2 linked regions of the Homo sapiens genome follow. The protein of the gene in region 1 purifies or fractionates together with the protein of each later gene. This does not show direct contact. Each region holds a gene or a part of one and is shown on either strand. Other genes may lie near its edges. The genes, in order: NUBP2 and QPCT.

What was found.
Region 2: the proteins of NUBP2 (region 1) and QPCT purify together in Homo sapiens (affinity purification with mass spectrometry; 3 studies listed by BioGRID and IntAct, with this or other methods). This does not show direct contact.

The regions. Positions count from the first base shown.
Region 1 is NC_000016.10:1,785,788-1,789,805, reverse strand, and holds the end of NUBP2 (cytosolic Fe-S cluster assembly factor NUBP2), read right to left. Parts: exon of another isoform or gene 3,981-4,018; coding exon of another isoform or gene 3,904-3,980; intron 3,270-3,903; coding exon 3,151-3,269; intron 3,050-3,150; coding exon 2,851-3,049; intron 2,130-2,850; coding exon 1,975-2,129; intron 1,866-1,974; coding exon 1,755-1,865; intron 1,669-1,754; coding exon 1,599-1,668; intron 1,238-1,598; coding exon 1,092-1,237; coding exon of another isoform or gene 793-1,091; 3' UTR 620-792; downstream 1-619. UniProt on the Homo sapiens protein: Component of the cytosolic iron-sulfur (Fe/S) protein assembly (CIA) machinery. Required for maturation of extramitochondrial Fe-S proteins.
Region 2 is NC_000002.12:37,361,339-37,368,629, forward strand, and holds part of QPCT (glutaminyl-peptide cyclotransferase precursor), read left to right. Parts: intron 1-5,893; coding exon 5,894-6,070; intron 6,071-7,291. UniProt on the Homo sapiens protein: Responsible for the biosynthesis of pyroglutamyl peptides. Has a bias against acidic and tryptophan residues adjacent to the N-terminal glutaminyl residue and a lack of importance of chain length after the second residue.

The sequences.
Region 1 (4,018 bases):
CCCGAGGGGTGTGGTCCAGGCAGCCAGGGCGCGGCTGAGGTGGGGTGAGGAGGGAGCGCGGGGCGGGCCGTCCGCCTTGCGTGGGAAGCCGCACCCCCTGCAGATGCCGTGGGCGTTTGTCTCTGCCCCCCCCAGGCACCGGCATCGTCAGCCCAGGTGCTCCTGGTGCCCTCTCACCCACCCAGAGGCCGCCCGGGTTGGTTCCGGGCCCCCACCTCCAGGGTCCTCCCCTGCTGAAGGCTGAGCTCTTCCTTTGGGAAAAATGGCGCGTTCTGCTTTCTGGAAGGGCTTTCCTTTCGGGTCTCACTGGGAAGAGGTGCAGGGGACCCCTGGGATTGGAGCTCCCTTCTCAACCTGACTTCTGGTCTCTGTCCCGGGAGGGGCCCCTTTAGTGTCCCAGGGAGGCCATTCTTCCACGGCGAAGGGGCCAGCTGTCAGGTTTATCACAAAATCTCCCCGAATTCCCACCAAATAAGATGCAAACACATCAGCACCTGGGCCCAGGGGCTTGTTGACAACGGAACGAACGAACCTGCCGGCCTGGCCCAGTCCAGCCCAGAAACTTACAGAAGCAGGTGCTGTCTGACCCCGAAGGACAGAAGACTCTAGAAACATCAGATCTGTCGCCACAGCAGCGGACACGTTTAATGGCAGGCGCCTCTACAGTTACAAAACATGCCTGAGGTCAGTTCGCCCCCTTAGGGGGCACTCCCCGAGCTAAACACAGATGACAGCGACCCAGGGTGCTGGAGGCCCGGGGTCACCTGAGGACTGCAGAAGTCCCGCGCTCCGCTAACTGTGTGGACACGCGGCTGCCAGGGGCACAGGTAGGCAACATGGATGGGAAGAGAGCCCAGGCCGCCCCCGTCTCACAGCTGCAGAGCACGCAGACCACGGCACTGCAGGCCAACCAGGCAGAGCTGCTGGTGCGACACATCCTGGGGCTGGGCTGGTCGGGGAGAAGCTCTCCGGCTGACGCTGCCTGGGCCTGCCCCTGCAGGGCCCGGGAACCGAGCCCAGGCCTCTGTTTCTCTGAGAGGCTGGAGCAGAGCCCTTGGTGGCCCTGGAAAGCGGCTGCAAGGTGGCCTTAGTCAGGGGAGGCACGCGGGCGTCGCGTCCAGAATCTTCTGGGCTATGGAGGTGAGTGCAGCGAAGGCGGGGCTCCCAGGGAACTCCTGGATGAAGTCGTGGCCCTCCTCCAGGGTCCTCATGAGCGCAGGGTCCAGGGGCACGGAGCCTGCAGGGCACAGTGGAGGCGGTGGCGCCATGTCCGCACCTTCCACTCCCACCATTGGCTCAGCTGGACGCACCCGAACCACCCGTGGCCTTAGAGGGGATTGAGGCGCTGCCAGACGATTTCCACCTCCAGACCCGCGGCCCTCCCAGCAGGCTGGGTCCTGCCACCCGAGAGGGCCCTGAGAAGGGCGCGGGCGAATGACCTGCAGGTCTCAGCGGCATGGCGTGTGGCCCGAGAAGAGAGGAGGAAACCGCTCCCGTCCCCTCCTCTCCCTTGGGCACTGGGGGCATGGAGGTCAAACCCGCCCAGGGCAGAGATGGAATGGGAGGCCGCGACCCCAGCACCAGCTTGGGACACTCACCTAAGAAGGGCACCCCGGCGAGCTGGGCCAGCTCCTCTCCGCCGCCCCTGGAGAAGACGCTGGTGCACTCCTAGGAGACGGTGGTGAGCCCAGCACTGCCCAAAGCCCCCACCGGCCAGGTGCTGCCTCGCCCCCTCTGCAACCCCCGGGACTCACCGTGCAGTGTGGGCAGGTGAAGCCGCTCATATTCTCCACGATTCCCATCACCCGCAAGCCCGTCTTCCTACAGAAGGTCAGCTCGCGCCTCACGTCCCCCACGGACACCGCCTGCGGGGCAGGAGCCGAGGCCACGGTCAGCCAGGCGCACCAGCAGGGACACCCGCCCAGCCCTCTGGGAAGCCACCCACAGGGACTCGGGAAGGTGCCGCAGCGCTACCTGGGGCGTGGTGACCACGAGGGCCCCCAGGGGCTGGTAGGGACGCAGGGCTTCTATGGTGGCCATGTGCTCATCGGAGGTCCCCGGGGGCGTGTCCACCACCAGGTAGTCCAGCTCCCCCCAGGCCACGTCGGACACAAACTGCTTTATCAGCGCTGCAAAGACGGGGCAGACGGGGCGGTCAGGGCAGGGCAGGTCTGCACACGTGGCCCTGCGCCACTAAGAACCAGCCAGGTCAGGCCGAGGGGCTGCAGTCCATCAGGTGTCACTTGCCACCAGCCTCCATCACAGGCTCTCGGGAGGCCCTGGCCCGCTGCAGGAGTGCAAAGATGGGGCCGGGGCCATTACAGCGTCCCTTTCTGCAGTGTCTGGCCCCTGCCCACAGAGCCCCCGCTGACTCCCCGAGGCCCCAAATCAGAACACGGAGCCAGGACCCTCCAGGCGTCTGTACCCACACATGGGAGCACCCACATTCTCCGTGGTGGATGCCCCACTGGTGCACCCACAGCCTGCGCCTCACTCCCACCAGCCTCTCCCTGCCTTTGGGGGCGTCTAATGCCACCTGCTCCAGAGGCACCAGAACCCCCTCAGCTCTGCCCCTATGACCTGCCACACTGGGGCCTCAGGTCCCTGCATGCCATGGCCAGGGTCTCAGCAGACCCCACTCCCTCTGACCGGGAGTTGGGGACAGCTGTGTGGCAGCACGGACCCAACTGGAGACACACCGCCAGCCTGAGCCCTGTGCCTGGTCGTGGGTGTCATGTGCAGGTCCCCAGGAACAGGCCTGGCTGCTGAAGAGGAACATTTCCACAGGAGAGGCCGGCACGGACGCTAACCCCCTTCACCAGGACGGCGGACGCGCCGCCCGGCCGTTACCGTTTTTCTTGGGGCCTCTCCACACCACGGCCTCGTCCGGCTTCTCCAGCAGGAAGCCCACAGACATGAGCGAGATGCTCTGCTCCCGGTCCAGGAAGACGGGTGCCCAGCCGCGGTCGCACTGGTGCACAGCCCTGCCCTGCGCCCCGAGCATGCGGGGGATACTGGGGCCACACAGGTCCACATCCAGGATTCCCACCTGCAAGGAGCGGCACAGCCTAGGCCGGGGGCACCGCCAGGCCTCCACCGGGATGCGGGCAGCTGCCCGGGGCTCCGCCCAGTGAGGGGTAGGGCGCTCACCTTCTTGCCTGCATGGCGCAGTGCCAGGGCCAGCTCCGTGGAGATGGTGCTTTTCCCAACGCCCCCCTTTCCTGAGAGGACCAGGATGATGTGCCTGACGCCGGCCAGGTTTCCAGGCTCTGGGCGGAAACACGACAGAGAAGGTCAGGGCTCCTGGTGCCCACTGTGCCCACACACGCGGGGTCACCCACTGCCTCTTGCACCCACGTTCTGAGCGGGGCAGTGGTGAATCGCCAGACCCAGAGGCAGCCCGTGCCCCACTTCGCCCCGATGTAAAGACCTCCAGGCAGGTCCCCTGCAGCCCCAGACCCGGGGGGACCCTCTAAGACCACGGCACTCCCTGCACCTGCCTGAGGCGGCGCTGCTGAGAGTGGAAACTGCCCAACTCCTCTCGCTGTGTGGAAGGGTGCATGCGTTCCTTCGTGCGCGTGTGCAAACACACACGTGGGTCACATGATCATGAAACTGCCAGCCCCCTGCTATTTCTAACGGGAACCAGACTCCACTCTTTCCCCAGCCAGTGCACCTGGGCTCGGCAGAGGCAGCAGAGGGCCCAGGGTGGGTGGCAACAACCACGCGTTGTCACACACCAGCGTCCCCGGCTCTCGGTCCCTGCAATGTGCGGTAAGTGAGGGGAGCCGGCTGCTTCCAGCACAGCTCCAGCTCCTCTTCCTTCCAGGGTCCCATCCTGTCCCTGCCACACGGCAGGGGCTGCTGTGTGCAGATACCTTGGCAAAACCCCTGCATTCTCACCCCGGCGCCACCGCTGAGGCCATGCCCCTTGTCTCCAGCAAGCTGCTCCATCCCCGACAGGTCCTTGGAGGGTGCATGTGAGGGGCTCAACACATGATGCGTAAAACCTGCCCCC
Region 2 (7,291 bases), on another chromosome or scaffold:
AGCTCCACTTCTCTCCAGTAATAGGACTGTCATTACACATCCACATCCTTTGCCTGGTAACTTTGCTGTGCCCTCCCACTGTAGCCAGTTGTACTTCCTCATCCCTTCACTCTGGACTTCATTATTTGACTTGCCTTAGCCAATGGGATGTTAGTAGAGGTGACACAAACAGGGGCTGGAAGTGTGCTTGTGCCATTGGGCTTGCTCTTCCGTGTCTTTGCCATAACCATGAGAATGGCATGCCCTGGCTAGCCTGCCAGTCCCAGCAGAAGGATGAGACACCTGGAGCAGAACCAACCTTGCTGACTGCACAGTGAAGCAGAGCTGCCCCAGCCAAACCCATTCTAGATCAGCTGCTCCCTAGCTGACCAGCAGAGGTTATGTATCCCAAGAAGATACATAATGGTATTTTAAGCCACTGTGTTGATGGGGTGTTATTCTATTCTATTATTGCAACATTAGCTAACTGATACAGCCTTGAATGGGGAAGGACTGCAGATAACCCAGACTGTGTGAACGCTGGTAATTAGGCATTTGTAGTGTTACCATGAAGACCTTCATACATCAGGCCAGTCAGATTCTCCTAGCTCCAAGGTACTAGGCTGAGTTACTAGTAACGAAGGCCATGGCTATTTTTCTGCCATTCCTGAAATGAAGCAAAAAGAGCAGGTTGCCTCATGGGACTCAGGATGAATGTCCACAACAGTTTATTGCTGGCTAAATGAATGGATATTAGGCGAACAGAATGAAAGCAAATCGTTGTACTGATCATTGGAGTCTCCCAGCTGTTGAAGTTTCACTGAGGTACTTGAACTGTCAAGCCTGCAAGAGATAAAAACTATTTCCGTTTGCCTATGCCCTGGGCATGAGCAGAATGCCTCTTGTCCCAACCGGTCCCGTTCTGCCCTCTTGTTCTGCGATTATGTTGTCTGATTTGAAGCTAGAACTTTCAAGGCCCTTTAAACAACTGGAAGCTTAGAATGTCTCTACTGAAGCAAGCACCTTACAATTTTTGCCAACGAGAAAATCTGTTTAATTATTTAATGCTTATTAAACCCTGAGTGCATTTATATTGCACAAACACATCCTCTGCTTAATGCTCTCCAGGAGTTATGGAGGATTCAAATCAAATTACACTGTCCTTTCCTCATGGTATAATTAAGGAGCAATATGAAATGATTAGCGTACAAAATTAAGTTAGTTTTCAGATGATAAAGACAATTTTTTTCTCTTTTGAAATCACCGTTAAAACAATCAGGGAAACTCCATTTTTTGAAGAAAGTAGAGAACATCTGTGAATAGGAACCACAATATGAAGACAGAAGTTGGATGGAGAAATGGCAGATGACATATCAGAGTGGAGAGAAGTCACACTGTCCTGGAGAGGGAAGAAATGGAAGAAGCCAGTGGTTTCCTTGATAGAATCCTAAAAAGGCTCAGGAATTAGAGATGTGATAAGCTGAGGAAGGCAGAGGTGAGGAAGGGGCTGGTGTGGAGAGTGTTTCTAAGTCTGTCTAAGGAATATGTGGATGTAGAGATTCCCACCCCACACCAGGCAGGTAAGTGAGTGCCCCCTTGTGCCTTTGCCACAGATGAGAAAATATTTTTCTGGAGAAATTGAACCAGGGAGGTTATGGAATTGAGAATAGCAAGTATACAGGAGGGTGACAGTGGGGCACCCCATGGAAATCGGGGAGATTAGGCGAAAGCCTACACATTGAACAGTGAGATCTATAGTTTCTCTCCCATCTTCAGCACCAGAAAGCCATCAGATAGGAAACTGGAGGATTCTTCTTCAGACCGTGTGAACCACCCCGCAGAAAAATCCCAGATGGTGACATTCAGTAATCCTCAGTGAAAACACTGGCTGGGCACCAGATTGCCTTGCAGTGAAGCCAACCAATCTGTGTCTCCAACCAGCATTTTAATATCTTATTCTTTAACATGAATGAACACAAAGGATGACCAGACATTTGAGGACAGACTCCAGCATGAAAGAAAGGGCCTGGAGCAGTGGCTCATGTCTGTAATCCTAGCACTTTGGGAGGCCGAGGTGGGAGGATTGCTTGAGGCCAAGAGTTTGAGACCAGCCTGGGCAACATAGTGAGGCTCCCTCTCTACAAAAAAAAAAAAAAAAAAAAAATTAGCTGGTTATGGTGGTACACACCTGTAATCCTAGCTACTTGGGAGGCTGAGGCAGGAGGATTGCTTGAGCCCAGGAGTTCAAGGCTGCAATGCACTATAATTGAGCCACTGCACTCCAGCCTGGGCAACAGAGTGAGACCCTGTCTCTTAAATAAATAAATACTTTTTTAAAATGTAAAAAAAAAAAAAAAAAAAAATAGAAAGCAAAACAAATCATACAAATTTAAAATGAAGTGGGAGGAAATAGAGCAGAAAATGACTTAAAGGACACTGTTCTAATATTCTTACAGAGATAAGAGGAGACATTATATCTATGAAACAAAACCAGAATGCTGCAATAACAGAACAATTGGTCAATAAGGAGGAGCTTTTGGAAATTAAAATTTCTATTTTCAAAATAAATAAATCAATAAAACAGTTGGATCCTAAAGTAGAAGAAGTATCTTTTTTTAGAAGAGGAATGACAAAAAGGAGACGATTATGACTTTTGGAGAATAATTGTAACAATTCCAGTTAGGTCATATAAAAAGTATTGGGAATGAGAATGGCACTGGACTTCTCAATAGAAACTTTGGGAGCTAGAAAACAATGAAATTATGCCTTAAATATTTTAAATAAAAATAATTTGCAACCCAGAATCTTCAGACCCAGAAAAATTAAATAGGAAAATAGAATGAAGACATTTTCAGAGGTAAATCTCAACAATTTTCACTCCCATGTACTGTATTTTTGCCCTAGAAGTTGCTTAAAGCTGTGCTCCAGAAAAATCAAGAAAGAAATCAAGGATGAGGGAGTCATGGAGTTCAGCTCACTGGGGGTCCCATATAGGAGAGGCAGAAATCTGCAGGTTGATGGTGAGGGGAGCCCCAAGATAACAAACAGATAGGCAGCAGGCCTAGTGGTCGGTCCAGGCTGGAGCAGGCAGCAGAGGGCTCCGGAAGGGCCCATTCTTAAAAAACAAAACCAGACAGACATGAGAAATAAAGGTGTGATAGTGTCTGGAACGCTTGACCACATAATGGTGAAGACATATTAGGCTCAAAGAAAACAAAGCAAATGAAAGAGAGGCCTGTGGTGAGGAATGGTGGGAAACAGGTTTGCAGAGGCAGGACGAACTGGATTGCGATGTTTGTGTACATGGAAAAGGACAGAAAGAGACAGATCCCCACTGGTTTTTGGTCTGAGTAACTGCAAGGGGGGTTTTGCCATCCATTTGGTTGAAGAGACTGTTGGTAATACAGATTTCCGGGGGAACCTCAGGAGATGAGTTTTGACACTTTGTTCGAGGTGTCTATTAACGTCTATGTGGAGATCTTCATTTGGCAACTGAAATTGTAGTCTGGAGATCGGCAGTGAAGTCAGGGCTGGAGATATATTTTTTGGAATTGATATTTACATGTATGTGTGTGTTGTGTTGTGTGTGTGTATTATTATAATATAATACAATATAATATAACATATAATATGTATATATAGAGAGACCAGCCTGGGCAACATACTAAGGCTCCGCCTCTACAATATTATTATTATTATTATTATTTTAAAATAATTATATTAAAAATTTTATATATATAACAATACACACACAACACAGCACACACACACACACACACAAGACAACACACACATACCCACACATATATGATTTAAAGCCTCAAGAAGAGATATCAAGACAGTGAGTGAGTGTGGACAGAGAAGAGAAGAGAACCATGGAGCAAGCCCCTGAGGCTCTCTAGTGTGAAGAGGGAAGGGAGATGAAGGGAGCCATTAGTGCTAAGGTAGGAGGAATATGGTATCTTAGGAACCAAATGAAGCAAGTGTAGCCAGGAGGGAGTAATTAACTGTGTTGAATGCTGACAATAAGTCAAGAGAGATGAAGACTGAGAGTTGACCACTGGATGTAGCCATGTAGAGTCATTGGTGTCTTGACAAGAGCAGTTTCAGTACACGGTGGAGATAAAACCCAACTGGGCTAAGTTTAAGAAGTGGGATTGGAGACAGCGTGAATAGACAACTCCTTCAAGGGGTTTTGCTATAAATGGGATTACAAAATTGGGCAGTAGATGGTGGAGATAGTGAGGTCAAATATTTTAAGATGAGAAAAGCAACAGCATGTTTGTTGGCCGATGGGAATTATCCAGCAGAGATAGAAAAATTGATGATGTAGGAGAGAAATGGTATTTGCTAGAGCAATGTCCTTGAGCAGATGAGAGAGGATAGGATTTTGTGCATAAGCAGGGAGACTGGCATCTGATATGAGCATGACAGAAAGAAATCAAGGTCATCGGTTGGGAATGAAGATGGGTGAGGTGGCAGGGAGAGGAGGAATGTGAAATCCTAGAAGAGTGCCAGAGTGACTGAACTAAGAAAATACAAATGACTTGCCAGTCAACATGAAAGGCCAATGTGAGGTTTGTGGTCATGAACTTTAAGCAAGGCCAGACAGTGTGGTTATATATTTTTTTCTCTGGTGAGGTTTAGCTGCACGAGTGCTGGCACAAAGTAGGTAGAGTATGTTTTTGCCATGAAAGTTTGACAAAGGCAGAAAGGGGCAAGGGAGTTGAGGGTGTATGCTAGTGAGTGATTGGCATGATTGACTGGAATTTAAGCCAAATATAGAGTGAAGTGAGGACATTATGGGGGTGAAGGACCATGAAAAGGTGAAACATTCAGTAGATTAGGGGTTCCAGTGGGATTGAAGGACTTTGGAGTTTAGAGTACCAGGACCAATCTGAAAGACAGGGGTTATTGTCAGACGGAGGAAAGTGTAAAATCAGTTAGAATCCTAGTCACTCTTTTTAGTTCCATTCAAATACTGTCTTTTTCATAAAGCCCTCCTTGACACCCCCAGGATTTTGCTTCTCATTCTATCCAATTTCTAGAGGACTTTAATGTTACATTTGTGGCTGGTGGCACATTTTGCCATGCTTATGTATTTGTTTTATCTCTCCCCAACCCAACTAAAGTATAGGCTATTTCAAGGGAAGGGCTATAATTATTATTCTTCGTGTCTGTAGCATTCCTAGGGCAGACTCTTGAAGCTAGACTCAGTACAAAATTGAAGATGTAAATAAGGTGAGAAGCAAGAAAGATTTACAGTTGTTTCAGGTTGGATTCCCCAAGAAGCGCCCTCTGACATGGAGTTTAGTATTCAGGTCACTTATTAGGGAGTGGCCTTGGATCAACACAGGTATCAGGGAGGGGAAAGAAATGGTGTTGGACGGAGGAAGAAGTCGAGCTGCAGTGCAGGTTCAACAACGGCCTCAGCCAACCCCTGCGGAGCTCTGGAGATATGATGGCTCTTTAGAGAGCCCCCCGTACCCGTGTAGGTCAGCACTGGATGTGGGACACTCCCAGGAGGTGCAGCTGAGGCAATTCCTAAAGTGACTGACGGCTCTTCCAGCAGCTGAGGCAACACACCCTCCTGTATGGGAAGTGGGTGGTGTATCACACGATTCATCACAGCACTTTCATTGTTTCAAAATTCTGTGAGGAGTAAGAAAAAATATAAAAGACTTCTATTTTCAGAGGGAATGGAAGAAGGTGGTTTATATGGGTGAAGACTGTGGGAGGTGTGATGACTTTTGAAGAGGAAGTGGTGTGGAATAAATTTTGCCATAGTTTCACTTGCTTTGGTATCTTCCTTTCTTTATGGCACATCTATCTTTTTGCCCAATTAATAGAAAATCATGCTATTTTTCATCATCACAGTATTTTTTTGCTATGTTTTTATTGTTGTTTTTACCAGACTGTTTCAGACTCCAAGCCAGATTTGTCACTCCAGCTGATCTTCTTTGATGGTGAAGAGGCTTTTCTTCACTGGTCTCCTCAAGATTCTCTCTATGGGTCTCGACACTTAGCTGCAAAGATGGCATCGACCCCGCACCCACCTGGAGCGAGAGGCACCAGCCAACTGCATGGCATGGTTAGTCTGGGCAATTTCCCTAGCACTGTAGCTGTAGGCTCCGCTTCCAAGGAAAAGGTTGCAAAAGCCAAGTAAAGACCTAAAAATGCCACAGCATCCTTGGAGCACAGTGTTTATGATAGAACATTCCTTGGCAGGCATTGGGTTTTTGAGGAATCCCAGAGCTAAAAAGAATGATTCTGAGCTGGCTCTGTGGCTCATACCTGTAATCCCAGCATTTTGGGAGGTTGAGGTGGGAGGATCACTTGAGCCCAGGAGTTCGAGACCAGACTGGGCAACATAAGGGGACTTCGTCTCTACAACAAATAAAATAATTAGCTGGGTGTTGTGTATGCCTGTAATCTTAGCTACTCAAGAGGCTAAGGCAGGAGGATTGTTTGAGCCCAGGAGTTCGAGGCTGCCGTGAGCTATGATTGCTCCATTGCACTCCAGCCTGGGTGACAGAGGGAGACTCTGTTAAAAAAGAAAGAAAGAAAGAAAAATTGCTGGTTAGAAGCCATGTTTGACTGAGCTTAATTAAAATGATAAAATCATGTAAAAAATTGGATTACAGGAACTTCAGATTCAGTTGGGCCCAATGGGAGCACATTCCCCCAGTACTGTATGGAGGTGGAGAGAGCAAACCCCTTCTTTCAGGCCTTTATAAGTCTGAAGAACATGGGGCTTTGGGAAATGGAATAAAAGAGGGGTGAGGGTGAAGAATTTCCTTGGTGGCTTCAAAGTATTACCGTGACTCCAGTGTGACTATGACAGTTTGATGTGTTGGTTTTGATGTGGCATTTTTGACATGGGGGTGGGGATATTTTGATGCTGCCTTAAAACCCTGCTATTATTACTAAGTAATGAGTGCAACACACAGCCTCATTTTCATCCCCATTCCTGGGCCCACACTCCATCCCTAATCCCTCCCCCGACCCCTGCATCTTCTCCTGACTCTGACTCTCTTCCCATATTTGATCTTCTTTCTGTCCCCACGTCTTCACTAACCCCAGCTTGGAACCTCATGCTACCCTTGAGACTTCACTAGCCCCGGTGCCTTCATCCCTCCCTGACGCTCACCCCATCTGTGAACTGATAGCTTATTCCCAGCACCCCCGCTTATTCCTATCCATTGCCCTATCACTGACCTTCGCCCTATAAAAGTACAAATGGTCACATTCTGTGTCCTCTGTGACCCTAACACACCTCCTGTTGGCATTTGCTCTCCCTCCTGTTATCCAT